Regions from separate parts of the Homo sapiens genome. Here region 2 is linked to region 1. Evidence: fine-mapped expression QTL. Tissue or cell type: whole blood. Region 1 holds a variant in brackets; the other region holds the start of a gene. All regions are shown on one strand. Distances are between the middles of the regions.

Region 1 (2,628 bases):
CTTGTATCTCACCTTAATTGTGCTTAACATTTGTTTAACAAAAACTGATCCACAGAGAATCGGTGATCAGAAAGGCTGGATCTCTGCCCTGAAAAAGCCATTCTAAAAGCTAGTCTAGACCAAGTTTCATTTTATTTTCTTAAAGCACTGTGTTTCTATTGTCACCTTAGAATGACACAGAATTGGCTGGGCATGCTGGCTTCCTTAGAATGATATAGAATTGGCTGGGGGCAGTGGCTCACACCCGTAATCCCAGCACTTTGGGTGGCCGAGGCAGGCGGATCATGAAGTCAAGAGATCGACCATCCTGGCCAACACTGTGCAACCCCGTCTCTACTAAAAATACAAAAATTAGCTGGGCATGGTGGCATGTGCCTGTAGTCCCAGCTACTCAGGAGGCTGAGGCAGGAGAATTGCTTAAACCCAGGAGGCGGAGGTTGCAGTGAGCTGAGATCACGCCACTACACTCCAGCCTGGCAACAGAGCGAGACTCCATCTACCAAAAAAAAAAAAAAAAAAAAAAGAATGATATAGAAGAATTAAATGAGGATTAACTGGAGATTGACAATTTCAAAACCACCTTTGCAAAATTATAACAGTGACAAAATGATGACAGTGAAAGAGATCTGACCTAACCAACTCCATCTTGTTTTTAACCTCCAATCTGCCCTTGGTCATTCCTGGGCATGGGCCAAGATATTAATAAATTTGGGAGAAATTTAGTTTATGATTTAAATGATAATAGCTCATCCCAAAACTAAACTGCCTTTGTAAAACTAATGAAAGGACACCAGGTCAGGAGGATGCGAAGGACCAGAATTCTGCTAAGATGCAGGTCAGTTAAATGATTAGCAGTTATTATTCCAGAGGGCACAAAAATTTGCAACATCCTCAATTACTCCTGTAAATAACATCACTATTGTAGTACACAGGACTGGCCTTTTGAGATGTCTTTTCAGGCTTTTGCACTTCTGACTACCCAATGGCCCCTCTCAGACCAGCCACTCCTCTGTGGCCCCAACCCAGAAGCAGACTCAGCACGCAAGGACCAGGACTGTTTTTCTATATCCCTGTGATTCCATCCCCAACCAATCAGCAGTACCCATTCCCTAGCCCCTGCCTACCAAACTATCCTTGAAAAACCCTAGCCTCCAACTTTTCAAGAAGGCTGATTTGAGTAATAATAAAACTCCTGTCTCCCATTTAG[C/T]TGTCTCCATGTATATGAAATTATTTCTCTCTTGCAATTCCCATCTTGATAAATTGGCTCTATCTGGGTAGCAGGCAAGAAGAACCTGTTGGGTGGTTCTTACCTGTAATTCTTCCTGTCCAGCAAAAACCATTTATTCTTCTTGTCCAGTTTTAGGAAAGCATGCCTGTTGAGATTGGATCACCTTTCTTCTTGGAGACAGTCAAGGCAGTGCCTATTATGTTGGCCTCCCAGGCAAGAGGGTTTGCCAACTGGGGTGATTTCCATGAGCAGAGCTTTAGAATGATTCATTCCAACCTGACTTAGAACAATTTGCTTTATTTCTTCTTTTTTAAATTAATAATAGAGGCAGGGTCTTGCTATGTTGCCCAGGTTGGTCTTGAAGTCCTGGACTCAAGCAGTCCTCCCACCTTGGCCTCCCAAAGTGCTAGGATTACAGGCATGAGCCACCACACCCAGCCAGAATAATTTACTTTAAAGAGTTCTTCTTCCTTTTCTACATCTTAGCCCCATTAAATTACCTCGGTAAACCTTACGTCAAAACTTGGGGTTATGGTTTTCATCTTTCATTTCCAGGAACTAAGATGCCATCCCTCCCATCAGAAGGAACAGAGTTAAAGGAGTATAAACCAAAAATAAAATTCTAAGGCCCCCCAACCATCTGAATGGACTTCCTCCTCAGTCAGCGCCCTTAAAATTTAACCTGAGAGACTGTTTCAGGGCATGATGGGAAGTGGGGGTCAAACATGCCTCGTTATACCTCTCTGGCATTAACATCAACACAGACTTTAAGTCTAATAAGAAACATTTTGCAACCTATTCTCTCTGAAGCCTGCTAGCTAAAAGCTTCATCTGCATGATAAAACCTTGGTCGCTACAGCCTCTTATCTTAACCCAGACATTCCTTTCTGTTTGATCCCAGGTCTTTAGACAAACTCAGCCAAGTGTCAACCAGAAAACATTTGAATTTACCTGTAGCCTGGAAGCCCCACTTCAAATTGTCCCACCTTTCTGGATCAAACCAATGTATTTCTCAAATGTATTTGATTGATGTCTCATGCCTCCCTAAAATGTATGAAACCAAGCTGCACCCAAACCACCTTTGGTACATGTTCTCAGGATCTCTTGAAGGCTGTGTCACAGGCCATGGCCACTCATATTTGGCTCAGAATAAATCTCTTCAAATATTTTACAGAGTTCAACTCTTCGTCAACAGAAGAAACATTAGGAGATGGGGATGGGGCTGGAGTTGGGGGTGACTGACATTGTGTTCTAGTGGCTAGTTAACCAGCTAATCAGCCAAGGAGAGAAGTGGTGACTCAAGATAATAGGTGTTTTCTCTGAAGCAGTGGGACCATGGAGAGGAAGAAGAAAGAAGGGAAAGGACTTTTTTACAAATCCATAGCTGCAGACAGGAGACC
Region 2 (2,700 bases), 290 kb after region 1:
AGGTGCGGGGTGGTGCAGGACTGAGTCAGGACTCCCACGCTGGCCAGGCAGCCCTGCTCACAGGCAAGGTGTAGGGGGGTATTTCCTCGAAAGTCTCGGAGCTCAGGATCACAGCCAGCTCCCAGAAGTGCCTCAGCAATTTCTGGCTGGTTGGTGATCACAGCCAAGTGGAGTGGAGTCTACGAATGCAAGAGAGACCAGAGAAAGTAAGCCATGGACCAAACCCACACCCCGAGTTCCCCTCAACCCGTGTCTCCTGGTTGGGTGCTGCTCCTCCTAGACAGGGGGGTGGGGAGGGCTGGCAAATAGCAGAGGCTCCAGGTGGGTCATAAAGACCTCACCAAATCAGTGGAATTTCCTTCACTCTCTAGGATGTGGGCTGATGTGAAGTAAAAGGTGAGGGTAAATAGTGCTCAGTGGCCCTGAATTCAGAAAGGATCTGGGGTGACTCTGCTACATCAGCTACGTCCCAGGGTCAGAGAGAACCCGGGCCAGGCAAGCGGCGCACCTGCTGCAGGTTGTTCTGGAAGTTGAGGAAGGCCAGGTCTCCCTTCACCTGGCGGATCACTTCCATGGTCAGTGCCTTTTCTTCATGGATGATGGCCAAGTGCAGGAACCTGTGGGGAAGAGAGGGAAAAACCCCAGGGGTGGTGAGTGCACCGCGTGGGGCCCAGGGAGGCGCGGGCTGCGGGGGATTGCGCAAGGCCGGGGTTTCTGGAGGCCGAGGCCGCGGTGTTTTCCGCGAGGTTATTATGAGCTGAGTGTTCCTGGCAGGCGCCCAGGGACTTTCCGCCCCCCTCCCCCCGCGGCCCCGGCGGGCGCCGGCCAGACCGCCCCGCCCTCCCGCCAGCTCGGAACGCCCTGTACTTCCCCTCCCGGCTGCTCGGCGCCCGCCAGCGGCCAGAAACTCCCGCCCCGCCTTATGCAACCGGGGACTTCGCGTCCCCGCTGCCGCCCCGCCCCCGGCCTAGAGGACGGGTCTGGGGGGAGGGGGCGTGTGGCGACGCTGCCATCCACCAGGGCCCAGCCGCCGCCCCTCCGAGTTGGGCCGGTGCCCCGCGCGGCCCTGCAGCCCTGCAGCGTTCGGGGCGGTGCAGGAGCCCCGGGGTGCCGCGGCGCCCGCCCGGCTGCATCGCTGGTCCCCCGGCTCGGGCTCCAGGCCCGGCGCCTCCCACCCCCAGGCCGCGCGCGTCCCGCCCTCCCGACGACCCCCAGCCCCGGGCCTCCGCCACTTACGAGTCCCCGTCCTCGGTGAGCTGCTGCTTCCAGGGCTCCGAGCCGCGCGGCACCTCCTGCGGCTCGAGGCGGATCTCCTGCAGCTCCTTGACCATCTGCTCGTACTCCTCGTCTTTCATGGAGTCCAGGCCGCTGTCGTGGCGGTCGTCCAGTAGCCGCTCCTTCTTCAGCCCGTCGCGGGGGCCCTCCATGGCCCACTCCTGGGGGCGCTCGGCCGCCTGGAACATGGCGCGGACGAGCTGCGGGCGCTGCTGCGGGTGCGCTGGGCCGCGGGCTGCGCGCTGCTTCCTCGCTGGGGCGCTGGCGGGCGGGACGGCGGCACGGACTGCTGTGGGCTCTGCAGCGCCGCCGCGGCGCCCTATAAACGCTGGCTGGGGATTTCTCTGGGGCGGGGTCAGGCTCGGGGAATTTCCAAGCCAGTCAGACCAGAAAAAGAGAACTGGCTTCGTCCTCTGCTAGGGGGAAAAAGAAGCCTAAACCCTGAGCTGGGGTTCATCGGAGAAACTCCCTGCGATGAGCCACTAGGGTCACGGACAGGGAACTTTTTGATGAGCGCCGAGTGGCTGGAAAGTCCTTCCGACCAGGCCCCCTCCCCCCGGTACTTCCCTGCAGCCTGCACCCTGTAATCCTGTCCCTCTGCAAGTGAGCCTTCTTTCCCTGGGGTTTCCCACGATCGATTTGAATTGGGGTCGTCGGCTGCTGAGATCCCAAGGACGCCGACCTGATGGGCGGTCCCTCTTTGGGGTTTGCCAACCTGCCGGTCCTTTCCGTTTTTTGATCTTTTGAAAACGCAAGAGTGGAAATGATGGCTGGGCGTAGGGATTTGCTTTCCCCAGACTTCTAAGGGGAAGGACGCACTGTGGTTAGGGGGCTGCAGGCCGCGCCGGTGTTTCTGCCTATACCAGGCTCTTTGCAGCAAAGGAACTTTTAGCTTCGCCCCCACCCCCCCACGCACCCCCGCCAGGTAGAAGTTGTGAAAGCTTTGGAGGAGTGAAAAGCCTAAATCCTTGGAGAACTCTCAAATCACTTCCTAGGGATGAACAGCCCTGTTGACTGGGGGAGGGGCAAACGCTCCCTGTATGGGGAAACTGCTGAATAGGACCATGATTTTTTTTGTTTCCCAAGTAAAGCAAGGTGTTAATGTTTGTAGTGGTGGTTGTGGATACCTTGCAATAGCAGAGTAGCTATTGTGTTCATAAGTAGCTATTCGTTTATGCTATCTGACCTACATTGTGCTCCCGCAGAAAAAGGATCGTGAGCCTACTTCTGGGCACCCAAATTCGAGGAGAACTTAGAGAAGGAGGCTGAAGAATGAGTTTAGTTAGTGCCTTAACCGCGATTGGACCTTAAGGACCACTAAGAAAGTAGTTGCCAGGCATCCTGCGGGAGGCTCAAGGTAGTCCCATCCTGCCCGCCCCTCCTTGCTCTCTTGTCCTGGGGGACAGTAGCAGTTGGACCCATTCA

Evidence for each region. PIP is the estimated chance that this variant, and not a neighbour inherited with it, causes the effect.
Region 2: it holds the start of NFKBIA, and the variant in region 1 is fine-mapped to the expression of NFKBIA in whole blood (INTERVAL, PIP above 0.99).

What each region holds. Positions count from the first base shown.
Region 1 is chr14:35,110,735-35,113,362 of GRCh38, forward strand. All of the region lies in intron 2 of PPP2R3C (protein phosphatase 2 regulatory subunit B''gamma), which reads right to left. LOC101927178 (a long non-coding RNA gene) reads left to right here. Exons shown (of 5, transcript NR_110415.1): 5 at 2,130-2,396. Among named protein-coding and RNA genes, the nearest start is that of PRORP-PSMA6, 9.8 kb to the right of the region's middle. RefSeq lists an enhancer at 1,815-2,596. The variant C/T (reference allele first, on the strand shown) is at 1,208.
Region 2 is chr14:35,403,182-35,405,881 of GRCh38, forward strand. It overlaps NFKBIA (NFKB inhibitor alpha), which reads right to left and starts at 1,568. Exons shown (of 6, transcript NM_020529.3): 1 at 1,237-1,568; 2 at 509-617; 3 at 1-179. The coding sequence starts at 1,463. RefSeq lists enhancers at 60-369, 400-449, 1,554-2,425, 1,630-2,029 and silencers at 650-1,239, 1,390-1,559.